Regions from separate parts of the Homo sapiens genome. Here regions 1, 2 and 4 are each linked to region 3. The links come from fine-mapping of genetic effects on gene expression. A gene starts in region 3. Each other region holds a variant in brackets. All regions are shown on one strand. Distances are between the middles of the regions.

Region 1 (7,291 bases), 38 kb before region 3:
TCTGAGGGAGGAGGGGCTGGGGGCCTGGACTCCTGGGCCTGAGGGAGGAGGGGCTGGGGCCTGGATGCCTGCATTGAGGGAGGAGGCTGGGGTAGGAATTAGAGGCTCCTACTGGCCAGGCCTTCACATGTTTGCTGGCTCCCAGGGCACCTCCAGGTGGGCAGGAGCTACCACTCAGCACCATGAGCACCGCCACAGGGTAAGCGCCCCCGGACCCCAGGTCCCAGCCCCAGCACGCCTCCCGCCTCCCCTCGCCTCCTCACCCACACCCGCTTGCGGCAGCCCAGACTGTTTGCGGCGGCCCAGACTCTGGCCCAAGCCCCGACACTCAGGAGGAAGCCAGAGCCTCTCTCCTCCCTGCCCAGCCTGGGGTTAGGGGCCCCCACTGCAGAGCAGACAGGCCTGAGCTCCAGTTCGGCCCTCACACTCAGTGCTGATGTAACCCTGGTCAGAGGACATCACCTCCTGGAGCCTCAGCCCCTCCTCTGTGACACAGGGACAATGTTGAAAAATTGGAGGGATAGTGCATTACAGGACTTAGCTGACCACCTCACTGACAGCAGGTGCTCAACTCATAGGAGTCGCTATTGCGATTGTTATGTTGTTAGTAAATATTAACCCTTTGCTAGAAAATCAGGGCTGTTTATAATGAAGACTCAAGTCCCCCAGAGTAAGCAGGGAGAAAAACAATGAGAGATGAGTCAAAATACCTGCATGGTAGGTAGTGAGCTCTCTGGCCCAGAGGTAATCAAATTGTGGTGACATCAGACTGGCAGGAGCAGGATGAGGAACAGGAGTTTGGGAAAAAGGGTTTTTCAGTTCCCCTGACGCCACCTGATCGCTGAGCTTCTGTTATGTGCATGCAAGTGGGGATTCAAGAATTCTTAGGAAAGGTAATCTTAGGAAGAAATTGAGGACGGGAGGAGACAGAGAAGGATGTGGTTGGGAAGCACCTGGCCCATGGGAGTGGGAGGGGAAGCAGATAATTCCCTGTCTACTTCAGATACCACTAATGCTATTATAACCATTCCCATTTATTGAGCAACTTCTGTGTGCTAAGCCCTGGCAGCATCTTAAGAATGATAATAACAGTTATTGAGGCTTCAAAATACTTCACCTGCATCATCTGACTGAATTTGCCCAACAGCCCTACCAGATGGTTACTACGTTACAGAAAGAAAAACTGAGGCAGGAGAGATTAAATCCTCTTCTGAAGGTCTTATGGCAAGGAGGCAGTAGACAGAGGGTTTGAATCCCGGACTATGCCATGGTAGAGATCACACTCCCCTACCACCCAGCACCACCGCCTGACCTGACCTGTCTTTTTTTTTTTTTTTTTTTTTTTGAGATGGAGTCTCACTCTGCTGCCAGGCTGGAGTGCAGTGGCACGATCTGGACTCACTGCAACCTCCGCCTCCCAGGTTCAAGTGATTCTCCTGCCTCAGCCTCCCACGTAGCTGGCACTACAGGCGCCCACCACCACACCCAGCTAATTTTTGTATTTTTAGTAGAGACAGGGTTTCACCATGTTGGCCAAGATGGTCTCAATCTCTTGACTTTGTGATCCGCCCACCTCTGCCTCCCAAAGTGCTGGGATTACAGGCGTGAGCCACCGCGCCCAGCCTACCTGTCTTCTTAAAGTCCAGCTCTGGCTCTGAGCTCTCCTGCTCAATAATAATAATAATAATAATAATAATAATAATAATAATAACCCTTCCATCGCTCCCCATTACCTTCGTCATGAAGCCCTTGCTGCCCTGCTTGGCATTTCCACAGGATCTGCCCCCAGTCCCACAGTCTCTCTCATTCCTCTTTTCTTCACCAGCCCAGAAGCTGCCCCAAAGCCAAGCGCCAAGTCTATCTATGGTGAGCGGGGGGCAAGGGAGCCCCAGGCCCATAGAACTGGGTCTAAAGAAACAGGACCTGGCATCCAGGGTCTTGGAGGAGGAGGGGCTGGGGGTCTGGACTCCTGAGTCAGAGGGAAGAGGTGCTGGGGGTCTGGACTCCTGGGTCAGAGGGAAGAGGGGCTGGGGGGCTGGACTCCTAGGTTTGAGGGAGGAGGGGCTGGGGGCCTGGACTCCTGAGTCAGAGGGAAGAGGTGCTGGGGGCCTGGACTCCTGGGTCAGAGGGAAGAGGGGCTGGGGGGCTGGACTCCTGGGTCAGAGGGAAGAGGGGCTGGGGGGCTGGACTCCTGGGTCAGAGGGAAGAGGGGCTGGGGGGCTGGACTCCTGGGTCAGAGGGAAGAGGGGCTGGGGGGCTGGACTCCTGGGTCAGAGGGAAGAGGGGCTGGGGGGCTGGACTCCTGGGTCAGAGGGAAGAGGGGCTGGGGGTCTGGACTCCTGAGTCAGAGGGAAGAGGGGCTGGGGGGCTGGACTCCTGGGTCAGAGGGAAGAGGGGCTGGGGGCCTGGACTCCTGGGTCAGAGGGAAGAGGGGCTGGGGGCCTGGACTCCTGGGTCAGAGGGAAGAGGGGCTGGGGGTCTGGACTCCTGGGTCAGAGGGAGGAGGGGCTGGGGGGCTGGACTCCTGGGTCAGAGGGAAGAGGGGCTGGGGGCCTGGACTCCTGGGTTTGAGGGAGGAGGGGCTGGGGGCCTGGACTCCTGGGTCAGAGGGAAGAGGGGCTGGGGGGCTGGACTCCTAGGTTTGAGGGAGGAGGGGCTGGGGGCCTGGACTCCTGGGTCTGATGGAGGAGGGGCTGGGCCTGGACTCCCAGGCTCATTCTCTTTCTCCCCTGGCAGAGCAGAGGAAGCGTTACTCCACAGTTGTTATGGCTGATGTATCCCAGTACCCAGTCAATGTGAGTCTGGGGTCTGTGTTCCCCCAGGACATCTTCTGGGGCAAAGGTGGCCTCAGGAGATAGGGCTTTTGAAAGCAGCTAGGCCCCCAAGCAGGAAGCATGTGGAAAGTCAGTTTGCCCATCCATAAAATGGACCTCCGTTGCCTCACCTCAGTCATGGATATGAAGCCAGG[G/A]GCCTCGGGTCCACTTAATCTGCCAGCCTTTCCTCCAGGCCAGCTGTTGTGCTGGACAGTGGGACCACGGAGGCAAATCAAGACACAGCCCTGCATGAGGAAGGGGTAGACAAGGTCCAGAGGAATCCACAGAGGCGCCTGGTGCTCTAATGGAGGTGGCAGGGGGCATGGCAGGAGACCCGAGGAGGCATTTAGAAGGAGAGAGCTATAATCCAGACTCCTTCCCTGCCCGCAAGGAGCCTCCAGTCTGTGAGAAGCCAGACTCAGGTGCTAGTCACTCTGATGAAAGGGAAACAAAGGGCACTGGGAGGAGGAGCTGATTTGTGGAACAGGTGATCAAGGAAGGCTTCCTGGAGGAGGTGTGGTTAGTCTCAGGCTGAAAGTCTGATTATTCTGGGGGATTCTGAGCCCACCTGGCATCATCTTGGGCCTCACTGCTTTCTCCATGGTCCGTACCAGCACCTGGTGACGTTCTGCCTGGGTGAGGACGATGGCGTGCATACCGTGGAGGATGCCTCCAGGAAGTTGGCCGTCATGGATAGCCAGGGCCGAGTCTGGGCACAGGAGATGCTGCTGCGAGTGTCTCCCGACCATGTCACGCTGCTCGACCCGGCCTCCAAGGTGCCGGGGGGCACGTGGGTGGGAGGAGTGTCTGGGGCAGGGACTTCAGGGGGTCTGGGTGTGAATCTTGGCTCCTGCACGTCCTTCCTCTGGGAACTCTGGCGAGGGACCCCAGCCCCCTTCTTGAGCCTTAATAGCCTCATCTATTAAACAGGGCTGTTATCCCTAACCCCCTAACCGCCTGAGGTTGCCCTGACCTGCTGGCCCACACTCCCGTCGCCATTTAGTAGTACCATCATTTCGGGGCCTCAGTTTACCCCGCCATCCCACCCGGCAGGAGGAGCTGGAGTCGTACCCACTGGGCGCCATCGTGCGCTGTGACGCGGTGATGCCACCCGGCAGGAGCCGCTCGTTGCTGCTGCTCGTGTGCCAGGAACCCGAGCGCGCGCAGCCCGACGTGCACTTCTTCCAGGGCCTGCGCCTCGGGGTGAGCAGATGGGCTGGCTCTGGGGGTGGAGCTGGAACTGGGCGGAGCCTGGAGCCGGGGCGGAAATGGGTGGGGCCTCTAGGTGGGGCGGGGCCTGGGGCTAAGGCGGGATCAGAGCAAGGAAGGGCAGGGGACCTGGGAAGGAAGTTCTGGAAGGCAGTGGGGTTTGAGATTGGACCCAGGGTCAAGATAGAACATGAAGGTGGGATGAGGACATGAACAGAACATGGCCAAGAAGGATCTGGGGGAGCAGCCAGGACGAGGTGGGGGCGAGGAACCACCCGGACTGGGTCTCCATGGGCGGGGTCGTGGCTTAGGGCAGGGACAGGTGTAGGGCGAGGGGTGAGTTCGGGGCGTGGACGTGCGTGGGTTCACAGGTGTGAACGGTAGCCGCACGTGGGCTGGGACTGAGCTGAAAAATCGGCCAGGGGCGAGGCCCGGGTAGGAAGTGGGTGCGGCGTGGGGAGGCGTGGCCTGACGGTGTGATTGGCAGGCGGAGCTGATCCGAGAGGACATCCAGGGGGCTCTGCACAATTACCGCTCGGGCCGCGGGGAGCGCAGGGCGGCGGCGCTCAGGTGAGAGGGAAGAAGTTGGCAGGGTCTCTGGGAAGCCGGTTTCCCCTCCTTGTGCCTCAGTCTACAACACCAGCCTGGAACAGAACAAGAGTTTTGCATGGAGTCAAGCACACCCTAGTCGAGTCTTGTCTGTACCTCCCAGACGAGCTGACCCCTTCTCCAGAACTCTGCTTCTTTTCTCTGTTCCCTGTCCAGGCCCTCAGTTTCACTCTAGAGAGGTGCTATCCCTCCGTATATCGGATTTCTCCCTACCTCGTTGAACTTGTTCACTCCCTTTGAGCCTTTTGAGCCTGTGTGTCTCGTTCTGCGCCCTGGATTTCCCCCTCCCTGGACCCCTCAGTGGACCCAGTCTTGGTGTCCCCGTCGCCCTCCGCAGGGCCACGCAGGAGGAGTTGCAGCGCGACCGCTCGCCCGCCGCTGAGACCCCGCCCCTGCAGCGCCGCCCGTCAGTCCGCGCAGTGATCAGCACCGTAGAGCGGGGCGCGGGCCGCGGACGACCCCAGGCGAAGCCCATTCCCGAGGCAGAGGAGGCGCAGAGGCCTGAGCCGGTGGGGACCTCGAGCAACGCTGACTCGGCCTCCCCGGACCTGGGTCCCCGGGGTCCTGACCTGGCGGTTCTGCAGGCGGAGCGGGAAGTGGTGAGCCGCTAAGGAAGGGGTCTGGGGGCAGGGCCAGGCGACTGGAGGCGGGGCTAGGGCGTGGAAGGGCGGGGCCGGCTGCGGGACGGGCGTTCTCTGGTCAGACTTCTGCGTTATGGAAGAGGGGCTGGGTCGGGGGCGGGGCTTGGTTGTGGGGCGTGGCCAGGTGTTTGGGGCGTGGCCTGATCTGGGGAAGTGTATAGGTGCTCAGGTTCAGGGCTTCGACGGGGATGGTTTTGGAACTCGGGAGCCCTGAGCGTCCCCCTCCTCTGTCCCCTAGGACATCCTGAACCACGTGTTCGACGACGTAGAGAGCTTTGTATCGAGGCTGCAGAAGTCGGCGGAGGCGGCCAGGGTGCTGGAGCACCGGGAACGCGGCCGCAGGAGCCGGCGCCGGGCGGCTGGGGGTAAGGGGCACCCTGGCGTGGGATCTGAACCCCCTCCCGATCTCTTCCAAATGTCCCCGCTCTCCCCAGGCTCTCCCCTCCCGCCACTTGCCAGGGCTGACCTCACCGCCATCTTAACCGGGTGTCCACCTCTCTCTGCCTGCCTGGTGCTGGCCCCGCGTCCCCATCGCCGCGCCCGTCTGCTCCCCTCAGAGGGCTTGCTGACGCTGCGGGCCAAGCCGCCCTCGGAGGCCGAGTACACCGACGTGCTGCAGAAGATCAAGTACGCCTTCAGCCTGCTGGTGAGGACGCGCCCGCCCCTGGGCCGGGGCGCGGGCACGACGAACCTGTCCCGTCCCCGCACCCACGCCAACCACCTCCCTCCCCACGCCCCAGGCCCGGCTGCGCGGCAACATCGCCGACCCCTCCTCTCCGGAGCTGTTGCACTTCCTTTTCGGGCCTCTGCAGATGGTGAGACCCGCCCCAGGCCCTCGGGCCCCCCTGCAGCGGGAGGAATCGGGTTCGACTTGTAGAAGGTGTGGCGGCACAGCCTGCCCCTCCTGCTCCCCTGACAGATTGTGAACACGTCGGGGGGGCCGGAGTTCGCGAGCAGTGTGCGGCGGCCGCATCTGACATCGGATGCCGTGGCGCTGCTGCGGGACAACGTCACTCCACGTGAAAACGAGCTCTGGACCTCGCTGGGGGACTCGTGGACCCGCCCCGGGTGAGGGGCGGGGCTGGGAGGCAGGGGGCATGGTGATTGGAGGAGCATAAGGCGCTGGGAGGTGGGTGGCATGATGATTGGAAAATAGGACTAGGAGAGTAGGGAGGGGTTAGAGGCGTGGCTTAGTTGTGTTGGGGCGGGGCTTAGGACAGATGCCAAGATTCAATTGGAGGAAAGGCCAGGAATTAACGTGAAGGAAAGATTTAAGACCACCAGACCAATCGGATTGAAAGAAAAGGGGGGCTTAAAGGAATAGAGGGGCTAGGGGCTACGGGGCAGGGGCGGGGCTACGCGAAGGGGCGGGGCTTCTGGAAGGTTTGGTCTATAACTTTGGTGATGGGACAGAGTCTGTGCACTGCGGGCTGGCAGTTCCGCAGGGAAAGGGTCAGAACCTGAAACCGACCTTACGGAAAACCTGATTTGGAATCAGGTGAGATTTAGAGGCTGGATAAGGCAATTTTTTTCCAGAGAGAGAGATGGATGGGGTCTCAATATTTTGCCCAGGCTGGTCTGGAACTCCTGGCCTCAAGCGATCCTCCCATCTTGGCCTCCCAAAATGCTGGGATTACAGGCGTGAGCCACCGTGCCCGGTCTAGAAATATAAATTGCTGTTGAGTTGGGCTTAGAGCTACCGGCAGGACTTGGTGAAAAGTGGCGGGGCTAGAATCGTTGGAATACAGCGAGCTTTAGGGGAAAACTTAGTGAAGTTAATGCAGGAACGAAGTTGGGGGCTGTATCAGGATCCCTGAGCTCTTGGCCCTGTCCCTGGCCGCAGGCTGGAGCTGTCCCCGGAGGAGGGACCCCCATACAGACCCGAGTTCTTCAGCGGCTGGGAGCCGCCGGTCACTGACCCGCAGAGCCGCGCCTGGGAGGACCCAGTTGAGAAACAGCTACAGCACGAGCGGAGGCGCCGGCAGGTGACCCAAGCGACACAGCAGGGCCGAGGCTGGG
Region 2 (7,552 bases), 50 kb before region 3:
TCACTTGAACTCGGGAGGTGGAGGTTGCAGTGAGCCGAGATTGCCCTACTGCATTCCAGCCTGGCGACAGAGTGAAATTCTGTCAAAAAAAAAAAAACCTTAGGCCTGTAGACCTTAAGCTCTCACCATCTCAAACGTATTAAACCAGTTACACAATGCCAAATGCTGTATAAGAGGCACTTGGAGGAGTCAAATTCATAGAGACAGAAAACAGAGTGGTGGCTGCAGGGGGCTGGAGATGAGATTGGGAAGTCACAGGATTTGTTTTTGTTTGTTTGTTTGTTTTGTTTTGTTTTTTGAGAGACAGTCTCACTGTGTCACCCAGGCTGGAGAGCAGTGGGCGATCTCAGCTCACTGCAACCTCTGCCTCCTAGGTTCAAGCGATTCTCCTGCCTCAGCCTCCCGAGTAGCTGGGGCTACAGGCACGTGTCACCACACCCGGCTAATTTTTGTATTTTTAGTAGAGACGGGGTTTCACCATGTTGGCCAGGTTGGTCTCAAACTCCTGACCTCAGGTGATCCACCTGCCTCGGCCACCCAAAGTGCTGGGATTACAGGCATGAGCCACCGCACCCGGCCGGGAAGCTGTTTTTTAATAGATACAGAGTTTGTTTTGCAAAATAAAAAAAAGACCTGAAGGTGGACGGTGGTGATGGTTGCACAACAATGTGAATATACTTAACATCACTGAATTGTACACTTAAAATGGTTAAGATGGTACATTTTACTTTATGCATAGTTTACCAAACTAAAAATAAAGAAAAATTTTAGACTGGGCATGGTGGCTCATGCCTGTAATCCCAGCACTTTGGGAGGCCAAAGTGGAGAATAGTATGAGCCCAGGAGTTTGAGAGCGGCCTGGACAACACGGCAAAACCTTATCTCTACAAAAAATACAAAAATTAGCAGGTTTGGTGGCACGCATCTGCACCCTCAGCTACTTGGGAGGCTGAGGTGGGAGGTCTGCTTGAGCCCAGGAGGTCAAGGCTATGATGAGCTGTGATTGTGCCACTGCACCCCAGGCTGGGTGACAGAGCAAGACCCCATCTCAAAAATAATAATAATAAATGTTTACATTTAATAACATGGGCAATTGGTTCAGATGTTCATTTTCTCAACCTTGAAAAAAAAACAACACTGTTTTTCCCTGTCTTTTTCTCCTTTTCTGTAAACTGAAATCCTAATATCATTGACTTCCAGGACAGAGATCAGCAAACTTTTTCTACAAACAGCCAGATAGTAAATAATTTCAGCTTTGTGATCCACACAGTGGCTGTTGCACCTCCTCTGCCAGAGGAGCTGGGAAGCAGCCACAGATGATGTGAAAACAAGTGAGCACAGCTGTGTTCCCATAAAACTTTATTTATAAAAATAAGCAGTGCGCCACAGTTCGCCAGCTCCTGTTTGAGAGTCTCTCTCCGATGCCCAGGCTGGAGCGCAGTGATGCAATCTCAGCTCACTGCAACCTCTGCCTCCTGGGTTCAAGCGATTCTCCTGCCTCAGCCTCATGAGTAGCTGGGATTACAGGCGCTCGCCGCCACACCTGGCTGATTTTTGTATTTTTAGTAGAGACGGGGTTTCACCATGTTGGCCAGGCTGGTTTTGAACTCCAGGCTTCAGGTGATCCACCTGCCTCAGCCTCCCAAAGTGCTGGGATTACAAAGCGTGAGCCACTGCGCCCAGCTACCTGTCATTGAATTTGGAAGGATGGCATGAAGTCATTCATAACAAGGACTTAATCCATAGTAAGTGCCAGAACATTGCTGGCTGTTAATATGGTTATTATAAAGAGAACAATGCATGCATATTCCTCCTCTGAGGATCTCCTACCTGATTCCCAGACACACCCAAGGGAGTTAGAACATCTGTTTGGACTCCAGGTGGGCTGTCCACGCCTTTACCATTTTCCTGGTTGTTAACATGTTCCTGATCAGCACTGGGTGCTGTCCCAGGTGCTGAGAGGATTCTCCCACAATGCCCTTTGCTTTCCCCATCAGAGGGTTTATGGCACCCAATTCTCATTCACATTCTGTCTCTCCTTTCTCGTTCTTCTCTATCTCTCCTCTCTCTGTCTCCTTTTCTCTTCCTCTCTCCCTCTCTGTCTTCTCTCCCTCTCTCTCCCTCTCTCTTCCTCTCTCTCTTCCTCTGTCCTCTTTTCTCTCTCTCTCTCCCTCTCTCTCACATCTCTCTTTCCCTTCCTTTCTCTTTCCTCTCTCTTCCTCTCTCCCTCTCCCTCCTTCTGTCTTCCTCTATCCCTCTCTTCCTCTTTTTTCTTCCTCTCTTCTTGTCTCTTTCTCTCCTCTCTCTCTCCCTCTTTCTCTTTCTCTCTCTCTTCCTCTCCCTTCCTCTTCCTCTCTCTCCTTCTTTCTTCCTCTCTCTCTTCTTGTGTGTGTCTCTCTCTCTCTGTTCTCTCTCTCCCTCTCCCCCCAACTCTCTTTCCCTACACACATCTTAAGAGGCCTCAGCAGTGTAAGGTAAGTTTAGCGACCCTGTGGCTGTGTAGAGATAAGCAAAGGGGGGCAAGGAGCTCCAGTGGTCCCAGACTCCAGCCATTTGAGTCTTTGCAGCCCAAGCACTGCCCCAGCTTCTTGACAGCCCCAGCCATCACCAAAGGGCACACAGATAAGCTGCCTCCACCAAGGCCTGTGCAGATGGTAGGTTTTTGAGTAAAATAGATATGATCCTTGTCTGAAGCCACTGAGTTTTAGAATAATTTGTTATATGGCCATAGTAACTGGAATGATTGCTGTAGGTTTATTTTATTTTATTCATCCTTGCTGCATGCAACACATGCATGGCTCAGTAACTAGAAGGAAAGAAGAGAAGAAGGGAGGGAGAGGCAGAGGGTGGACAGGAGAGGATGGTAGGAAGGAAAGACAGGAAAGGAGGGTGTTGGTGGCCTTGCCTGCAAGCTGAGCAGACACCACGCAAACAGGTGACCTCCCAGTTAAGATGGAGGGGACTCAGGGCTCAGGAGGGGCAGAAGGTCCCCGTGTCGGAGAGCTGGGCAAGCTTTCTGCAGGAAATGATGGGGATCACGGCCATGTGAGCCGGCAAGATTTCCCTCAGCCAGGGAGGAGACTCCGGGCTGTGGGAACAGCTTAAGCAGAAGGCATGGGACAGGAATGCATATGAGAGATATTGTGGGAGGAGGGAGGGCTGCCTGGGCTGGCATGCAGGGTATGGGAGGGGGTGGAAGGGCTGAGGCGGGAGCCATCAGTAAAAGGACCCAGAGCGCGGCTCCAATGCCATGGTAGGAAGCTTGGCGTTGACTCAGAGGGCGCTGGGTACCGCTGAAGAGTGTTGAGCCAAGGAGGGTCATGTCACGGGCAGATACATGTTTTAGAATTTCTTCTTTTCTGGCTGAGATGTAGAGTATGGACTGGAGAGAAGCACAGGGGACATAGGAAAGGTAGTTCTAGAAAGAGGGGCTGTCCCACCAGGGAAAGTCAACCAACTGTTCCCCAGTATCCATTCCTCCCTTCCAGCTCATGGCACTAAAGCCACTGATTGATTAGCTGGGTGCTATCAATCTCTCTCTCATCTCTCTCTCCCTCTTTCTCTCCCCCTCATCTGTGTCTTTTCTCTCTCTCATCTCTCTGTCTCCCTCTTTCTGTCCCCCTCCTCCGTGTCTCCTCTCTCTCTCTTCTCTGTCTCATATCTCTCTCATTGCTCTCTCCCTCTTTCTCTCCCCCTCCTGTGTCTCCTTCTCTCTCTCTCTTTCTCCCCCATCTCTCTTTCTCTCCCCCTTCCTCTCTTTCTCCTCTCACTCTTCCTGTTTCTCTCTTTCTCTTTCTTCCTCTCTTTCTCCCTGTCTCTCTCTTCCTCTTTTCCTTTGTCTCTCTCTCTCCCCCCAACTCTCTCTCCCTACACACATCTTGAGAGACCTCAGCAGTGTAAGATAAGTTTAGCTACTCCACGGCCTGGCACGGTAGCTCACGCCTTTAATCCCAGCACTTTGAGAGGCCAAGGCAGGCAGATCACTGGAGATTAGGGGTTTGAAACCAGCCTGGCCAACATGGTGAAACCCTGTCTCTACTACAAGTACCAAAAAATTAGCTGGGCATGGTGGCACGCGCCTGTAGTCCCAGCTACTCGGAAGGCTGAGGCAGGAGAATCGCTTGAGCCTGGGAGGCGGAAGTTGCAGTGAGCCGAGACCACACCTCTGCACTCCAGCCTGGGTGACAGAGTGAGATTCTGTCTCAAAAAAAGAAAGAGGAGGCCGGGCACTGTGGCTCAGGCCTGTAATCCCAGCACTTTGGGAGGCCGAGGCATGCAGATCACGAGGTCAGGAGATCGAGACCATCCTGGCTAACACAGTGAAACCCCGTCTCTATTAAAAATACAAAAAAATTAGCCAGGCACGGTGGCGGGTGCCTGTAGTCCCAGCTACTCGGGAGGCTGAGGCAGGAGAATGGCGTGAACCCGGGAGGCGGAGCTTGCAGTGAGCCGAGATCGCGCCACTGCACTCCAGCCTGGGCGACAGAGCAAGACTCTGTCAAGAAAGAAAGAAAAGAAAAGAAAAAAAGAAAAGAATAAAGGGAGGGAGGGAAGGGAAAGGAAGGGAAGGAAGGAAGGAAGGAAGGAAGGAAGGAAGGAAGGAAGGAAGGAAGGGGAGGGGAGGGGAGGGGAAGGGAGGGAAGAAAGGCAGGCCCTGATGTTCAGGGAGCTGAGAGTGAAGTCACCGGCTCCAACCCAGGATCCAAACTCAAGTCTGTCTGGGGTCCTATCCCCGTCACCACCCCCCGCCCCGACCCATCCCCCAGAGACCTGGGAAGGAGCCAGGCTCCTCCGGTTTCAGGAAAGGGCTGCACAAACCACCCCGCCACGATCCCTCCCAGAGAACAAACAGCTCCCGGCCACCGGCAGTCTCCCTCCTCCTCCTGCCAGGCTGGTTCCCAGACCCACCCTCCCTGTGTCATAAGCGCCTCTCCCCGCACTCTCACCAGGGCTGGCTGTTCTCAGAGGAACGCCCAGGAAAAACCTACCCGAACCCCTTTCAGCTGGGAAGGGGACCCGCCTGGGCTTCCTCACCGCCGATGAGACCTCCCTCGTCGTACACTTAGAGCTGCCTGTGTTTTCCTTCCTTCCTTAAGCGGGCTGGGAACTCTAGACACTCAGGGATGGGCCAGCCCATTAGAGTAAGCATTCGGCCACCTCTAGGCTGCTACGGTCACTGCTGCTGTCACCATCAACGTGACTGTCTCACACCTCACTTCCTCCGGCCAGCCACACCCCTGCAGATTTAACCCGCCAGCCTCCCTAAGGTTTCCTCTGCCTGAAATCCTCTCTGCATTCCTGGCTCATTCTCGAAATTGAGGTCAAAGCTCAGATGCCGCCTCCTTCCCTGACCACCCTACCTGAAGCAGCCGCACCTGCCTGCTCCT[A/G]GTCACGCCGTTCCTTCACCTGTTTCGTTTCCTCCACAGGGTTTACCACAATCTGAAAGTCTTATTCATGCAGGTGTCTACTTGTTTATCTCCCCACCACACCTACTAGGATGACAATATCACAAGGGCTGGGGTTTCATCTGTCTCCTCCTCCTCTGTATCTCCAGCACATGAAACATGCTTGGCACACTGTAGGTGCTTAAGTATTTGCTACTACATCACTTTGGGATTTTGCATAGGACACTCCCAATGCTTAGAATGTCAATCTTTGCTTCATTGTCCTTGGCAAACTCCTATTCATCCTTTGAAACCCCATCCATTTATCCCTTAACCAGGAAAGGCTTCTGTGCCTCATACAACCACCCATAAAGCTGGATTAGGGCTTTCTCTGGGGACACCCTTGCCCTGTGCCACACTTCCATTAGCGCACATATCCCCCATGAATTGTGCACACCAGCAGGGTCTAGAGTACGGCACACATTTTGTCTCAGGAGCTACGTATTGAATAAATAAATTAATTACTTTTTTTGAGACAAGGTCTTGCTCTGTCACCCAGGCTGGAGTGCAGTGGTGCAATCGTGGCTCACTGTACCTTGACCTCCCAGGTTCAAGCAATCCTCCCACCTCAGCCTCCCAAGCAGCTAGGACCACAGATGCAGGCCACTATGCCTGGCTAATTTTTAATTTTTTTTTTGGTAGGGATGGAATCTCCCTATGTTGCCCAGGCTGGTTTCAAACTCCTAGGCTCAAGGGATCCTCCTGCCTCTGCTTCCCAAAGTACTGGGACTATAGGTGTGAGACGCCACACTCAGCCTCATTATTTAATATGTAAGTAGCTATATCTCTCTGAGACCCAGCCCCATCTAATTTATAACCTCCCTCCTTCTCAAGAACATGCCTCAGCTCCCATTGCCAGGGAATCTGACCTTTCTCCTTGTCATAGGATTTTTTTTTTTTTTTGAGTCAGAATCTCAGTCAGTCACCCAGCCTGGAGTGCATGGCGCAATGGCTCGCTGCAACCTCTGCCTCCCGGGTTCAAGTGATTCTCCTGCCTCAGTCTCCCTAGTAGCTGGGACTACAAGCGCACGCCACCACACCCAGCTACTTTTGTAGAGATGGGGTTTCACCATGTTGGCTAAGCTGGTCTCGAACTCCTGATCTCAAGTGATGGCCTCCCAAAATGCTGGGTAACAGGTGTGAGGCACCACATCCGGCTGTCATAGGAATTTGTCAGCAAATCCTACAGACTAGAGGATGTGTGTTGGGTGGTGTGGGGGTGGGGATAACGGAGGAGATGGGGGGTGAGCTCTTCAAGCCCCAGGGGAGAATTCTGTTCCGTTCCTGGGACATCCCAGGTGAGAGGGAAGAAAGGCCAGCCCCCCAAGACAGCTATCCCAGACTGGGACAGAGGCAAACCCTGACCACAGAGCCCTGTCACTCACCCAAGAACAGGTGCCAATGACAGAATAGCCAGGCCGAGGGGGGAGAGAGGTGCTTCGGTGATGGATTTCCCTGGTGACTTGCCAAGACAGGGCTTTACTGCCTCCGCCCTGGACTGGCTGAGTCAGACTGTGCAGGGGTGGACACTTTGACTGGTATTTGGGAGGCATTTGCTGTGGGTTACAGAGAGGGAGGGGCCTCCTTTGCGGCCAGAGAAGGAGGAAAGAGGCCCTGGGCCCTGGGACTTGGGACTTGGGTGGAGGCTCGGGTTTCGGTCTCACCTGCTGCTCCAGACCATGGCCTGGAGGGCCGCCTGCGCCACCCCCAAAGCAATGAGATAGCCCCTCCTCCCTCAGACCCAGGAGTCCAGGCCCCCAGCCCCTCCTCCCTCAGACCCAAGAGTCCAGACCCCAGCCCCTCCTCCCTCAGACCCAAAGGCCTCGGACCCATACCAAATGCTTCTATGAGATAGTTTTCTCCCCTTGTTCATGAAGAAATGAGCCCAGGCCCAGTCAGATCTGCATCTGTGTCACAGCCCAGGGCCACTGTAACCTTAGGCTACTGACTTCCCTCTCTGAGCCTCTGTTTTCTCCTGTCAATGGGGCAAGGGGTCTGCTCCTTCCCTCAAACCCCAACTCAGGTACAGTCAAGCACAGAAAATACTTGTGGCATGAATGTGATGAGAACACAGAATTGCAGAAGCCAAAGAAAGAGAAGCGTAAGGG
Region 3 (7,600 bases):
CCCCAGTCCCTCCACCCTCAGACCCAGGAGTCCAGGCCCCAGCCCCTCCTCCCTCGGACCCAGGAGTCCAGGCCCCAGCCCCTCCTCTCTCAAACCCAGGAGCCCAGGCCCCCAGCTCTTCTCTGTTCAGCCCTAAGAATCCTGGCTCCAGCCCCTCCTACTCTAGCCCCCAACCCCCTAGCCACTAAGGCAATTGGGGTGCAGGAATGGGGGCAGGGTACCAGCCTCACCAAGTGGTTGATAAACCCACGTGGGGTACCCTAAGAACTTGGGAACAGCCACAGCAGGGGGGCGATGCTTGGGGACCTGCCTGGAGAAGGATGCAGGACGAGAAACACAGCCCCAGGTGGAGAAACTGGCCGGGAATCAAGAGTCACCCAGAGACAGTGACCAACCATCCCTGTTTTCCTAGGACTGAGGGTTTCAGTGCTAAAACTAGGCTGTCCTGGGCAAACAGCATAAGCTGGTCACCCCACACCCAGACCTGACCCAAACCCAGCTCCCCTGCTTCTTGGCCACGTAACCTGAGAAGGGAATCCCTCCTCTCTGAACCCCAGCCCACCCCAATGCTCCAGGCCTCCTGGGATACCCCGAAGAGTGAGTTTGCCAAGCAGTCACCCCACAGTTGGAGGAGAATCCACCCAAAAGGCAGCCTGGTAGACAGGGCTGGGGTGGCCTCTCGTGGGGTCCAGGCCAAGTAGGTGGCCTGGGGCCTCTGGGGGATGCAGGGGAAGGGGGATGCAGGGGAACGGGGATGCAGGGGAACGGGGCTCAGTCTGAAGAGCAGAGCCAGGAACCCCTGTAGGGAAGGGGCAGGAGAGCCAGGGGCATGAGATGGTGGACGAGGAAGGGGGACAGGGAAGCCTGAGCGCCTCTCCTGGGCTTGCCAAGGACTCAAACCCAGAAGCCCAGAGCAGGGCCTTAGGGAAGCGGGACCCTGCTCTGGGCGGAGGAATATGTCCCAGATAGCACTGGGGACTCTTTAAGGAAAGAAGGATGGAGAAAGAGAAAGGGAGTAGAGGCGGCCACGACCTGGTGAACACCTAGGACGCACCATTCTCACAAAGGGAGTTTTCCACACGGACACCCCCCTCCTCACCACAGCCCTGCCAGGACGGGGCTGGCTACTGGCCTTATCTCACAGGTAAAACTGACGCACGGAGGAACAATATAAATTGGGGACTAGAAAGGTGAAGAGCCAAAGTTAGAACTCAGGACCAACTTATTCTGATTTTGTTTTTCCAAACTGCTTCTCCTCTTGGGAAGTGTAAGGAAGCTGCAGCACCAGGATCAGTGAAACGCACCAGACGGCCGCGTCAGAGCAGCTCAGGTTCTGGGAGAGGGTAGCGCAGGGTGGCCACTGAGAACCGGGCAGGTCACGCATCCCCCCCTTCCCTCCCACCCCCTGCCAAGCTCTCCCTCCCAGGATCCTCTCTGGCTCCATCGTAAGCAAACCTTAGAGGTTCTGGCAAGGAGAGAGATGGCTCCAGGAAATGGGGGTGTGTCACCAGATAAGGAATCTGCCTAACAGGAGGTGGGGGTTAGACCCAATATCAGGAGACTAGGAAGGAGGAGGCCTAAGGATGGGGCTTTTCTGTCACCAATCCTGTCCCTAGTGGCCCCACTGTGGGGTGGAGGGGACAGATAAAAGTACCCAGAACCAGAGCCACATTAACCGGCCCTGGGAATATAAGGTGGTCCCAGCTCGGGGACACAGGATCCCTGGAGGCAGCAAACATGCTGTCCTGAAGTGGACATAGGGGCCCGGGTTGGAGGAAGAAGACTAGCTGAGCTCTCGGACCCCTGGAAGATGCCATGACAGGGGGCTGGAAGAGCTAGCACAGACTAGAGAGGTAAGGGGGGTAGGGGAGCTGCCCAAATGAAAGGAGTGAGAGGTGACCCGAATCCACAGGAGAACGGGGTGTCCAGGCAAAGAAAGCAAGAGGATGGAGAGGTGGCTAAAGCCAGGGAGACGGGGTACTTTGGGGTTGTCCAGAAAAACGGTGATGATGCAGGCCTACAAGAAGGGGAGGCGGGACGCAAGGGAGACATCCGTCGGAGAAGGCCATCCTAAGAAACGAGAGATGGCACAGGCCCCAGAAGGAGAAGGAAAAGGGAACCCAGCGAGTGAAGACGGCATGGGGTTGGGTGAGGGAGGAGAGATGCCCGGAGAGGACCCAGACACGGGGAGGATCCGCTCAGAGGACATCACGTGGTGCAGCGCCGAGAAGGAAGTGCTCCGGAAAGAGCATCCTTGGGCAGCAACACAGCAGAGAGCAAGGGGAAGAGGGAGTGGAGGAAGACGGAACCTGAAGGAGGCGGCAGGGAAGGATCTGGGCCAGCCGTAGAGGTGACCCAGGCCACAAGCTGCAGACAGAAAGCGGCACAGGCCCAGGGGAGAGAATGCAGGTCAGAGAAAGCAGGACCTGCCTGGGAAGGGGAAACAGTGGGCCAGAGGCGGCGCAGAAGCCAGTAGAGCTCAAAGTGGTCCGGACTCAGGAGAGAGACGGCAGCGTTAGAGGGCAGAGTTCCGGCGGCACAGCAAGGGCACTCGGGGGCGAGAGGAGGGCAGCGCAAAGTGACAATGGCCAGGGCCAGGCAGATAGACCAGACTGAGCTATGGGAGCTGGCTCAGGTTCAGGAGAGGGCAGGGCAGGGAAGGAGACAAAGTCCAGGACCGGCTGGAGGGGCTCAACATCGGAAGAGGGGAAGTCGAGGGAGGGATGGTAAGGAGGACTGCATGGGTCAGCACAGGCTGCCAAAGCCAGGGCCAGTTAAAGCGACTCCAATGCGGAAGAGAGTAGGTCGAAGGGGAATGGTAAGGAGGCCTGGGGCAGAGTGGTCAGCACAGAGTGGCTAAGCCCAGGGCCAGTTGAAGCGGCTCCAATTCGGAAGTGGGGTGGTCGAAGGGGAATGGTAAGGGGGACTGGGACGGGGTGTCAGCATAGGGTGGCAAAGCCCAGGGCCAGGAACGACGGGGCGGATCGAGACTGGCAACGGGGAAGGAGGATGCCCCAGGTGGCGCAGCAGAGGGTGGACCTGGCCCCGGGAGACGCCGGGCGGGGGGCGCTGACCTGGTGCAGGGCGCTGATACCGTCGGCGTTGGTGGAGTCCAGCACGGCGCGGGCGGGCGGCGGCGCGGCGGGGTCGAGCTCGGCGCCGGGGCCAGGGTCGGCGGCGCGCAGCATCAGACGCGCCTCGTCCAGGTCGCCGCCCGCACAGGCCGCCAGGAACTCGGCGGCGCGCTCGAAGCGGACGGTGCGGGCGCGGCGCTCTCCGGGGCCAGGCTCGGCGCCCGCCCGCGCCCCCCACTGCCGCAGCTGCTCCCGTCGCCGCTCCCGGGCAGCCGCCGCCGCCGCCCCCGGGCCAGCCGCCGGGCCATCCTCTCCGGACATCGCACCGCCCGCCCGCCCAGCGAGCGAGCGAGCGCCGAGCCCCAACCGCCGCCACCACCCGCCCGCCCGCCCGCCCCGGGGGCCGCCGGGAACTGCCGCTGGCCCCCCACCGCCCCAAGGATCTCCCGGTCCCCGCCCGGCGTGCTGACGTCACGGCGCTGCCCCAGGGTGTGCTGGGCAGGTCGCGGGGAGCGCTGGGAAATGGAGTCCATTAGCAGAAGTGGCCCTTGGCCACTTCCAGGAGTCGCTGTGCCCCGATGCACACTGGGAAGTCCGCAGCTCCGAGGCGCCCAGTGGAAATCGCCAGATGAGGGCCTCCTCCGGGGAATGCTGGGAAATGGAGTCTACAGGCCGGAGGGGTGCCCCACGGCATACTAGGAAGTGTGTAGCACCGGGTAAAGGGGATGAATAGCAGACTGCCCCGGGGCAGTTAGGAATTCGACTGGACAGCCGCGTGGGAGGGAGTGCGGGGAGAGGCAGAGTTGTTTTGTTATTGTTGTTTTATTTTGTTTTCTTTGTTTTGAGACGGAGTCTCGCTCTGTCGCCACGCTGGAGTTCAGTGGCGCGATATCGGCTCGCTGCAACCTCCGCTTCCCAGGTTCAAGCAATTCTGGCTCAGTCCCCAGAGTAGCTGGGATAACAGGCGCGCGCCACCCCGCCCTGCTAATTTTTATATTTTTAGTAGAGACGGGATTTCACCATGTTGGCCATGATGGTCTTGATCTCTTGACCTCATGATCCGCCCGCCTCGGCCTGTAATCCTGCTGGGATGACGAGCGTAAGCCACCATGCCCAGCTGGGTTTTATTTATTTTGGTTTTTTTCCTGACCCCTTAACTAGAAATAAGCTCCACGAGAGCGGGATCTTTTGTCTTCTGTGCACTACTTGTCCTCGGTTCTTAGAACAGAACCTGAGAGAACCTGATCGCAAATATTTTTGGAATGAATGAATGAATGGGTTCACCAGGGCACCATGGGAAACTGAGTCCGCAACCTAGAAGCCATGAAAGACAGTCCACTTCCAAGCTTCCCTGGGTGACCTCGCAGGGCATGCTGGGAAATGAAATTTGCGGTGAAAAGGTCAGGACCACGATCCTAGGGCACGCTGGGAAATGTAGCCCACAGGGCCACACCCCTAAAAGCACAGTGGGGTGCAAGGCAGGGCCCCAAGGCATTTAGGGCTCGGGGCAAGAGAAATCCACACTCCACTCCCTAATGGTAATCCCTGAGCCACACCGAGTAAAGGAACCCAAGACACAGTGTCCACAGGGACAGGGCTCTCAGAGCTTTCACTGGCCCGCGCTTCTCCTGCGCCCACCCGGACCTCCTGGGAACCGCCCAGGCCCTCGCGCGCTCTCAAGGCATGCTGGGATTGGTGGTCCCGGGCAAGGAGTTCCAGCAGGTGGGGGGCGAATCACCTTTCAGCGGGCCCAAGCGATGAGCACACCTTGATCTTCACCTTACGGATCCCGCGCCCAACTCAAGATTGGGAAGGTGGCTGGCACTTTGTGACAGGAAGAGTCCCATAAAAATCATACAGAAAAGGGCCAAAATCGGGACAGAGACTACAGACTGTTTCCCAAGCGCTGTGGGAGTTTCCCACCCACTCTGAAGTCCTTGGGTTTGCGCGGAGACGTAAACTGCGCATCCCACGAGGCCTGTTTCTTTCCCTCTCTCTTTCTCTTTTGTTGTTGTTGTTGCTGCTGCTGTTACGAAAATTTTTGTGGTTTTATTGTATCATGAGGCATTGAAACATCCGGCGACTCAATGTCTAGGCGGTGAGGCAGCCGCTTTCTCCTTCACTTTCTTTGGGTTAAGTAGAGCAACTTGTCAGTAGTTTTGTTTTTTTTTGTTGTTGTTGTTGTTTTTGAGACGGAGGCTTGCTCTGTCGCCCAGGCTGGAGTGCAGTGGCGCGATGTCGGCTCACTGCAAGCTCTGCCTCCCGGGTTCAAGCGATTCTCCTGCCTCAGCCTCCTGAGTAGCTGGGACTACAGGCGTGCTCCACCACGCCCGGCTAATTTTTGTTTTTTAGTAGAGACGGGGTTTCACCATGTTGGCCAGGCTGGTCTCGAATTCCTGACCTCGTGATCCGACTGCCTCGGCCTCCCAAAATGCTGGGATTACAGGCGTGAGCCGCCGCGACCGGCCAGATTTTTTTTTTTTTTAAAGGACAACCTTTTGCATTACTTAAGTCTTTCCAAGGCATGCGCTGGTACAACACAAACTTTTCCCATTACATGCAGCTAGTCTAGTGTCCAGACGTCATGCACAACACCTCCGTGGCATCAGCGCACTGCGCCCACTCCCACTGCGACCCTGCTCATTTGTGCATCATATCTGGAGGAGTGGCAATAGTTCTGGAAAGAGGAGGGAAGAGGAGGCAGCGTGAGGGCCCGGTGGAGAGGAGGTCAGCTGAAGTTGTGCAGAGCAAGCCTGCATATCATTGGTGCAAACCCAAGCATCATTGCATCGCTGATGTTTTGTTTTGTTTGGTTTTGTTTTGTTTTTGAGACGGAGTCTCACTGTGTCGCCCAGGCTGGAGTGCAGTGATGTGATCTCGGCTCACTGCAACCTCCGCCTCCCAGGTTCAAGTGATTCTCCTACCTCAGCCTCCCAAGTAGCTGGGATTACAGGCGTGCTCCACGCCTGGCTAATTTTTGTATTTTTAGTAGAGACAAGGTTTCACCATGTTGGCCAGGCTGGTCTCGATCTCCTGACCTCAAGTGATCCACCCGCCTCAGCTTCCCAAAGTGCTGGGATTACAGGCATGAGCCACCACACCCAGCTGATGTTCTTTAGTAGGAATATCTGGTGGAACCCCAAGATGGGGTCTTCATCCGCCACGAAGCCTGTTTCTATAGAAAGGGATAGTTCTGGTGGCTCTTAGGTGTGGTCCCTGAACCCCACACTTTCCACATACTTACACACCAACCTCCTTCCCCCAGGAAAACAAGAAGTCGGTCTTCAGGGTGTTACCGTGTAGCTCTGGTTCTGTATGTATTCTGTGCCTTTATGTATAATTGTGTGTATTTGCAATCATGTCTGTGGCTGGATGTATGTTGTTTATGAGTTTGTGTTTATGGTTTGTTTTTGTTTGTTTGTTTGTTTGTTTTGAGATGGAGTTTCACTCTTGTCATCGCCCAGGCTGGATTGCACTGGCGCAATCAAAAAAGAGTAAAATAACAGAAATCAGAATGGGCTTATAATACTCTTACCCCTCTCCACACAGGACAGAAGAGTCAATTTTATACTTTTGTGGATGTTCTAACTTCACCTGCTTATCTGAACCATCTTTATGGTGCAGACTAATATCTATTTTTCTGCTGTTACAGAAGAAGTGGGAACATTTTCTTCTTATCTTTCTGAGGTTATTTACACCAGTGAGGAGGGCCTGCAGTTCCAAGGTTAAGCACCAACATTCCACTGTTACCATTGAGAGCAAAGAGCAGACCCTAGAAGTGAAAACAAAACCTTTACCACAGGAAGACAAGAGCAAAAGATGATGTTCTTGAGTGGCATATGAAGATGCTCACAGCCAACATCACATGCCTATCAGATATTTTATGTACATCATCTCATCAACTCCAGGAGGCAGAGACTAAGAGACTAGCCCCAGTCACAGAGCTAGAAATTGGCCAAGACAAGGTTCAATCTGAGGACTGTCAAATCCAGAACTGGAATTTCTTTTTTTTTTTTTTTTTTTTGAGATGGAGTCTCGCTCTGTCACCCAGGCTGGAGTGCAGCGGCATGATCTCAGCTCACTGCAACCTCCACCTCTTGGGTTCAAGCGATTCTCTTGGGACTACAGGTGCACGCCACCACGCCTGGCTAATTCTTGTATTTTTAGTAGAGACGGGGTTTCACCATGTTGGCCAGGATAGTCTCAAACTCCTGACCTCATGATCTGCCCGCCTTGGCCTCCCAAAGTGCTGGGATTACAGGCATGAGCCACTGCACCTGGCCTTAGAAGCCTCAGTTCCTGATGGCAGTTGGGATCTGCCTTTCCTTCCCTGGACTGCCTACCTCTTGTCTTTTAGGTTACATATGAGAAAACAAACCTCCAATTCACCAAAACTATTGTTATTTGGGGAGCTGTCTCTTACTATCAGCCAAACATAACTCCTCAATGACACTGTTAGTTTAGCACTGCCATTATAATCAGGAGGGATCTGGGTCCAGCTGCGGGAACATGAAGAGGCACTAGTG
Region 4 (7,600 bases), 120 kb after region 3:
ACCTTGGCCTCCTCCCGAAGTACTGGGATTACAGGCTTGAGCCACTGTGCCCGGCTAATTTGTTGATTTCTTAATGCATCATCTACCTTTTTTTTTGAGACAAGTCTGGCTCTGTTGCCCAGACTGGAGTGCAGTGGTATGATCTCGGCTCACTGCAACCTCTGCCTCCCTGGCTCAAGCCATCCTCCCACCTCAACCTCCCGAGTAGCCAGGACTACAGGTGCACACCACCATGCCCATCTAACTTTTGTATTTTTTGTAGAGACAGGATCTCCCTATGTTGCCCAGGGCTGGTCTCAAACTCCTGAGCTCAAGCAATCCATCTGCCCTGGCCTCCCAAAGTACTGGGATTACAGGCACTCAGGGATTACATGAGCCCACCATGCTTGGCCTTGAATTAGATTTCTATCACTCAAAAGTGAAAGTGCCCCCAACTAATACACACACCAATGCAGGTTCCTTATTTTCTTCATTCACTTCAGCCTCAGTCCAAATGTGTTGGGGGGACCCCTTGGCCCTGCCGTGTGGTGGAAGCTTGGAGAAGGGAAACTGGAGGGGGACTCACCGGACACCAGGTGGCTGGCCCAGACGGGCCCCCCTGGCCAGCTGGCTGCCCTGCCAGGCGCCATCTTCTCCATCAGACTCCCCTGAGCCCTGGGCCTCTTCCTCGTCCTCCTCTTCCTCATCATCATCAAACTGCTGGATGCGGTCCTTGTAGCATATCTCAAGTAGGTTGGCGTTGGGCTGCAGGGCACAGGGGTGGGAGGATGGGCCACACTGCCCACAGCCCCACACCCCTCCACCCGCCACAACCAGGGGACAGGGCAGTACTCACGTTCTCATCGTCAGCATTGAGGGAGAAGGTGATGTTGGCTGTCTTGTCAAAAGGTGCGCTAGGAGAGAAGGCAAGGCATGGTGAGAAGGTCCACCTGGGGGTGGGGGCAGCACAGGACAGGCCACATTTCTTTCTTCACTCAACACAGAGCTGACCCTCATTACTTGCAGATTTGGTATCTGCAAATTCACACACAACCCGAACCACTGGTCCTAAGGGGCAACGCATACATGAATATCAACATCTCACATATGATCACTTTAAATCCTTAAAACCACTCATTGAGGTAGGCTGTTTCCCTTGGCTCTAGAAGTGAGAAAATGGGGCTCGGAAATGTTAAGCGACTCTCCTCAGGCTCTTCCAAGGACAGGTGCCAGAGAGGGATTCAGATCCATGCCCTTGTCCCCATCCTTGGGGCATCTGTAGGAGGCTGACACTCACACCAGCCAGGCACAAGCAGAATGTGAGACTACAGCCCAATAAAGCACATCCCCTAACCTCAAGATGTCTACGGTCCGCGGCTGAAATTCTAAATTATGGGAAAAAGAATCACGTCAAAACTTAAACTGTGCCTGCCAGGGCCCCACCTCCCTCACCACGAGGGTCTAATGATCAGGGTCCACATTCTGTCCCACGTGTTACGGACAGTTCAAGGGATCATTTGTCTCAAATTCATGAAAAATTCTGCCACAAAGATCAATGGATAAAGGACAGTTAATTCTTAAAGGACACTAAGTATGTGACAGACATTACTCACGCACTTCATTCTCACAACCACCTTCCAAGGCAAGTGTCCTTAGTCCCTCCTAGACACTGAGAAGCAGCGGAGCAGAGACCACGCTGGGCACACAGTGGGTCTAGGGCAGGGCAGCCCATGTCCCCGTGGCACTGGCAGCCTCAGCTGACCTGGCTTCTGCTACAGGAGCTATGCGGGGCAGCATCTTCAGCCTTGAGATGATCAAACCAGTCATCCACTTTCCATTCCGGAAATCTTTCTGGGTTTAGTTTTGTTCACTTAACTTCTTAACCCCTCTGGAATTTTCTTGGTAGAGGAAAAGCTAACAGTTTCATCCCGAAAGGGGCAGCTGGTGACCCCAATGCCATCTACCAGTCAGTCCCTTCATTCTCCTGCCAGGGTGGGGTTTTCTTCTTTTTTTTTTTAATTAAAAAAGCAGAGATGGTCTCACAATGTTGCCCAGGCTGGGCTGAAATTCCTGAACTCAAGCGATCCTCCTGCCTCGGCCTCCCTAAGTGCTGGGATTAAGATGTGAGCCACTGTGTCCAGCCCAGTTTTCACTTGAGCATCTTCTCCAGGGGTCTCGGCACAGGCCACTGACCCACAAAGACCAACGCTCTGCAAGTCTCCATGCTGGGCACAGAAGCAGCCAACACAGGATATCACGTCTGCATCTGAGAGGACCTCTGTCCAGCTGTGGACTAAGCCAGGAACAGCTGACTATCCCTCATCGTGGTGTCCCTTACGCTGTGCTGTACAGGGACCCCGGGGCAGCCATGGGCAGCCATCCAGCTCCCACACACTAACCAGCTATGTCCTGGGGCCTCAGTCTCCCTGGCCGTAAATGAGCTCATCGTGGGGAGCAAGACAGAGTCTCGCTCTGTTGCCCAGGCTGGAGTGCAGTGGGACAATCTCGGCTCACTGCAACCTCCGCCTCCCAGGTTCAAGCGATTGTCCTAACTCAGCCTCCCAAGTAGCTGGGACTACACGCACCTGCCACCACGCCTGGCTAATTTTTGTATTTTTTAGTAGAGATGGGGTTTCGCCATGTTGGCCAGGCTAGTCTCGAACTCCTGACCTCAGGTGATCTGCCTGCCTCGGCCTCCCAAAGTACTGGGATCACAGGTGTGATCCACTCCGCCCAGCCACTTTTTTCTGACTCCAGAAGCAACAGATGCTTGTGGCAAGAAACTCAGAAAAGTTCATGATCATAACACCCAGAGGTGACTGATATTAAGATGTGGTTGACCCACAAATCAAAACAAGCAGAATTGGTAATTGGAAAAAAAAAGTTTTGTTACCCCGAGGCCTGTGGAGGGGAAAACTGGACCCCCATGTCTGGCAGACTCCTGAGCCAGAGGGCATCCATGGAGGTGCAGCTCTGCCCCACAGTCCCTGCGCCAGGACTGCTGGTCCCCACTACCCTGAGCCCCTCCCGCCTGGAACCCCTAAGGCTAGCTCCAGGAGTGGGAGGGACCCGCTCTGTGTCCCCAGCACAGAAGATGTTTGTGCCCCACCCTCATGGCCTGCCTCTCGGAGAGAAGAGACTGCAGAGCTGGAACTCATGTAACAGGAGGCAGACACACGAGGCTGCAGACACACACACAAGGCCACGGCCAACGCGTGCCCAGGAGGGGCCACAGCTGCAGGCTGAGCCCACAGGGCATGTAGGTGCGTGCAGGGGACAGATACAAGTAGGCGCGCCTGCTGCTGCAGAGGCAGGACAGGGCTGTGACCCTGCGCAGGAGACACTCACTTCACACTCTCCTCCTGCTCCCCAAACTCCTCATCATTGAAGCCGAAGTGGTCAATGAAGGCAGAGGTCATGCGCTGCATCTGGAAGTCCATGAAGGCCTGTGGGGGTGCGGAGGTTAGGGCTGGAGGGAGTTGGGCAGGACCCCACTCCAGCATAGCCCAGCACAGCCCCACATAGCCCCACGCCCACCTGCTGCAGCACAGCCTCCTCAGGGAAGTTGAACTCCTTGAGCCGGTCGTCCTCATCGTCACTGGAGGAGTGTAGGTGGTGGGTGTTCACCTGGGGAGAGGAGGGGGCGTCAGGGCCTGCTGGAGCCCCCAGACCAGGGTGGGCAGGCAGCTATCGGTGGCGGTGGGAGGCTAAGACTGGCCCAAGAGAGAGAAGCAGCAGGAGGAGTGCAGGAAGAGAAGCTGGGCCTCACCAGGTCCACCATGTTCTTCTTGTTGGTCTCCGCCAGGGGCCCCGATACGAAGGCTTCCCACTGCTCCTGCTGCTCGCTGGGCAGCTCTGCTTAGGTGAGAGGGGTGAAGACGTGAGGCATCTCGGGGCTTCAAGCCCCCCACCTAGCCCTCAGGCCGGCCTGGGGACCCTCACCCTTCAGCAGCTGCCGCAGCTGCTCTGCATTGGGCCCCTTCTCCGTGTTCTGCACCAGGGCACCGGCCACTCTTGTCAGGTGACCCATGTAGCCTTTCCGAGGGCCTCCCGCACACCTGGCAAGAGTGAAGGCCGCGGCTGCAAGCCAGGACTGGACCCAGGGATGCCCAGCCCCAGCCCGGCCCCCCATCCAGGCAGCCCCAGCCCCTGGAGACATGAAGGGCAGCAGGTGCTCACTGTACACGGTCGTTCTCCTCCCAGGACGTCAGGATCCGCTCCACCAGGCGGCACTGCTGCAGCAGCTGCGGGAGAGCGGGACAGGATGGCCTGGAGGGGTGGTCTGCACACATGTGGGGAGCTCTGCACTGCAGCAGGGGTCCCTTCCTCAGCAGATGCTTCACCAGGCCCC[C/T]GCTCATCCAGAGACGGGGATGGGAAGGAGGGATGCAAGCTGGGGCTTGGGACCCTGGCATCCACCCAAGTCTCTCTGGTCTTTCTACAAAAGAATATGTGGTGCATACACACACACACACACACACACACACACACACACACACACACATGCATGCACTAACGGACACACACATGCTCACACATACATGTTCACATACTCGTGTGCACTCACACACATACATGCTCTCACACACGCTTGCACTGACACATGCTCACACACGCACGTGTGCGCACTCATGCACACTCAGCTGCTCGCAGGTCTGCTCCCGCCCACCCCTAGCTCTTCAGCTCAAGTCAGGAGCCCACTGCTCCCTGCACCTGCATGTTTCATCCGCGTTTCTCCCTGGCCATGCCTCCCACACCCCATCTGGGCGCTGGCACCTAACACTACCCAACAAACACTTGTGGGAGGAAGGAGTGAGGGGTAGGCCTCTGGAGAGGGTGCGCCCACAGGGGATGGGCCCAGAAGGAGGGGGACCAGGGAGTCCCAGCTCACATGTTTCACAACAGGGTTTTGGATGGGCGTCTCAGGGCTGCTGTCAGGAGGTGGCCCCAAGCTCAGCATGGTGCTCACGCATCCCTCTACTTGGGCATGCAAGAAGTTGTTGAAGACATAATGGAAGAAGAGGTCCTATGGGAGGACACAGGATTGGTACCAGAGAGGCCCCGCCCCAGCCGAGCCCCCAACCCCTGAGCCCCCAGCCGAGCCCCCACCCCAGCCCCCGAACCCTCAGCCCAGTCCAGTCCCCGCCCCAGCCCCTGAACCCCCAGCCCGGTCCAGTCCCCGCACCAGCATGGTGTTGGGCACGTCCAGTGCCAGGAGCTCGTGCGTCAGGGCTGCATCATTGGCGCTCAGGGCACTGGCCAGGAGCTTGACCACGTGCAGCCGCGTGTTGCCCAGAGGCGGAGCCAGCATGCCCCATGTCATCTGTAGCGGCTCCAGCTGCAGACACAGGGAGGCCTGATTCCCAAGGGCTGCCCTTCCTGCTTCCCCCGCCTCCCCGAGGACCAGAACCCACACCCCTGACCTTGGGAGGCTCCAGCAGGAGCTGGTGGAAGCAGCTGAGCCGCGGGCGTAGGGCGTGCAAGGCGCCCACACTGGACACAGTGCTTTCCAGGGCCCCCTGGGCCAGGAGCTCCAGCTGCCCATCCACACTGCTGAAGAAGCTGTTCACGGTCACGGACTCGGACCTGCAGCAGGGCAGGGTCGAAGGCGGAGTGAGCCTAGATGGCCTGTGCGCCCACACAGGAGTAGGCACAAGGACCACGTCTGCAGGGTCTGGAGGAAAACGAGGAGCCACATGCCCCCAGCGCCGCTCTCTTCTGAGGCCCTTCAGACAACACCTGGCTGGGGTGGGGAGCCCGCCAGGCGGCAGCATTGGCAGTCCACTGTGAGAGCACGGGTGAGGGGTGGAGGCGGGAAGGCAAACCCAACAGGCTAGCGGCCTGTGTGGTAAGGCAGGGGCACGGGGGCCTGGGGTCCCTCCCAACACAAGCTGCAGCAGTGGCCTCAGCCTCAGTGCCCTCACTTGTCAAAGCAGACAAGAAGATTCCTCCCTCGGCCCCGTACTGTCCACTGTGCAGGGAGCACAGGCAGCCACAGAGCAAGGTGCCACGGGCGGGGATTTCTCTTGGTGGACACCGAGACCCGCCTCTGAGGGGCCGGAGAGCCCCTGGGGATGGGCAGCATGCATGGTCTGTGGCCCGTATCCCTCACCTCGGCCTCCTGGGCTCCAGCAGGGTCAGCAGCACCTGGATCCCACTGACGATGACAGACTGGCTCTGCTCCCCCTCGAACATGTTGCTTAAGAGCTGCTCAATCGTCTCCTGCCTGCGGGGGCAGGGGCAGGGGTCAGGGTGAGGGGCCAGGGGCCCAGGGCTTCCCCAAGTCAGCTCCCCCCAGCCTTAGCCTTGCCCGCACACCCACTTCTCCAGGGTGGCCAGCAGTTGGTCAGGCTCTGGGCTGTCCTGGACTTGGATCATCTGCTCCCGGCTCAGGCGGATGATGTCACACAGGGACTGGGATGCGTTGGAATGTTGCTGGAACGGGGAGAGACAGGTGAGGATCCTGGTCGGGCCACCGGGCCCTCTGCAGCCTGGTGCTGGGAGCCCCTCCCATGAGCTGACCATCCAGGGAAAAATGGTCACCCAGACACAGGGACACGTGTTACGAAGGAGGAGGGCACAGAGGCACCAACTGCTGGAGGGAAGATGGTGGAGAGAACAGGAAGCCCGGAAGGCTCCCCAGGACAGGAGGCATCCACACAAGGCCCTCATGACCGCATACAGGGCTGGCAGCACCGCCCACAATGACCCAGAAGGCTCTGACTGATGAGTGAATATGCCCAAGCTGGTCTATCCACACAGGAGAGTGCTAATCAGCCAGGAAAAGGAGTGAAACTGATACATGCAACCACATGAATGAGCCACAAAAACATCATGCTAGAGAAAGAAACCACACACAGATCACGTAGTACATGATTCCAATTATATGAAATGTCCAAAGACAAATCCACAGAGACAGAATAGTCTGGTGGTTGCCGGGGGCTAAGAAGAGAAAGGGGAAGATCAGGAGGAGCTGCTAATGAACACAGGGCATCTTTTTTATTTTTTCTGGAGAAAGGGTCTCGGCTGGGTGTGATGGCACATGCCTATAATCCCAGCAGTCTGAAAGGCCGAGGTGGGGCCGGGCGCGGTGGCTCACGCCTGTAATCCCAGCACTTTGGGAGGCCGAGGCAGGTGGATCACGAGGTCAGGAGTTTGAGACCAGCCTGGCCAACATGGTGAAACCCCATCTCTACTAAAAATAAAAAAATTAGCCAGGCGCAGTGGTAGGCGCCTGTAGTCCCAGCTACTCGGGAGGCTGAGGCAGGAGAATCGCTTGAACCTGGGAGGTGGAGGCTGCAGTGAGCCGAGATCGTGCCACTGCACTCTAGACAGAGCGAGACTCCATCTCAAAAAAAAAAAAAAAAAAAGAAAGGCCAAGGTGGCAGGATCACTTGAGCCCAGGAGTTTGAGACCAGTCGGGGCAACATAGCAAAACTCTATCTCTACAAATACAAAAAAATTAGCCAAGAATGGTGGTGTGCATCTCTAGTTCCAGCTGTTCATGAGGCAGAGGCAGGAGGATTGCTTGAGCCCAGGGGGGTCAAGGCTACAGTGAGGCAAGATCACGCCACTGCACTCCAGCCTGGGCAACAGAGCAAGACACTGTCTCAAAAAAAAGACA

Direction of the effects. Positions count from the first base shown, and alleles are read on the strand shown. Sizes are in standard deviations (SD) of each study's normalised expression. Not every link is listed here.
For the expression in fibroblasts of the gene that starts at base 3,489 in region 3, C is the high allele of the variant in region 4 and T is the other (large effect, 1.7 SD a copy in GENCORD).

What was found.
Region 1: its variant is fine-mapped to the expression of PPP1R12C in whole blood (INTERVAL, PIP above 0.99). The same link has a PIP of 0.9 or more in cerebellum.
Region 2: its variant is fine-mapped to the expression of PPP1R12C in whole blood (TOPMed, PIP above 0.99).
Region 4: its variant is fine-mapped to the expression of PPP1R12C in fibroblasts (GENCORD, PIP 0.95).

What each region holds. Positions count from the first base shown.
Region 1 is chr19:55,076,263-55,083,553 of GRCh38, forward strand. EPS8L1 (EPS8 signaling adaptor L1) reads left to right here. Exons shown (of 20, transcript NM_133180.3): 2 at 146-199; 3 at 1,826-1,866; 4 at 2,737-2,795; 5 at 3,428-3,589; 6 at 3,867-4,016; 7 at 4,510-4,592; 8 at 4,969-5,230; 9 at 5,511-5,637; 10 at 5,830-5,918; 11 at 6,013-6,087; 12 at 6,192-6,340; 13 at 7,116-7,257. The coding sequence starts at 183. Among named protein-coding and RNA genes, the nearest start is that of EPS8L1, 4.0 kb to the left of the region's middle. RefSeq lists enhancers at 61-786, 4,035-4,992. The variant G/A (reference allele first, on the strand shown) is at 2,969.
Region 2 is chr19:55,064,334-55,071,885 of GRCh38, forward strand. It overlaps a transcript of RDH13 not described here. Among named protein-coding and RNA genes, the nearest start is that of RDH13, 5.0 kb to the left of the region's middle. RefSeq lists a silencer at 1,825-2,025. The variant A/G (reference allele first, on the strand shown) is at 5,388.
Region 3 is chr19:55,114,149-55,121,748 of GRCh38, forward strand. It overlaps PPP1R12C (protein phosphatase 1 regulatory subunit 12C), which reads right to left and starts at 3,489. Exons shown (of 22, transcript NM_017607.4): 1 at 3,075-3,489. The coding sequence starts at 3,395. RefSeq lists enhancers at 1-333, 1,885-2,720, 2,075-2,124, 2,525-2,604, 3,565-3,844 and 1 more and silencers at 3,035-3,134, 3,155-3,234, 3,425-3,504.
Region 4 is chr19:55,236,078-55,243,677 of GRCh38, forward strand. PPP6R1 (protein phosphatase 6 regulatory subunit 1) reads right to left here. Exons shown (of 24, transcript NM_014931.4): 6 at 6,299-6,411; 7 at 6,089-6,202; 8 at 5,400-5,562; 9 at 5,162-5,314; 10 at 4,868-5,002; 11 at 4,159-4,223; 12 at 3,922-4,037; 13 at 3,749-3,834; 14 at 3,517-3,606; 15 at 3,328-3,425; 16 at 836-893; 17 at 566-744. It overlaps MIR6802 (microRNA 6802), which reads right to left and starts at 3,899; the gene lies at 3,835-3,899. The variant C/T (reference allele first, on the strand shown) is at 4,331.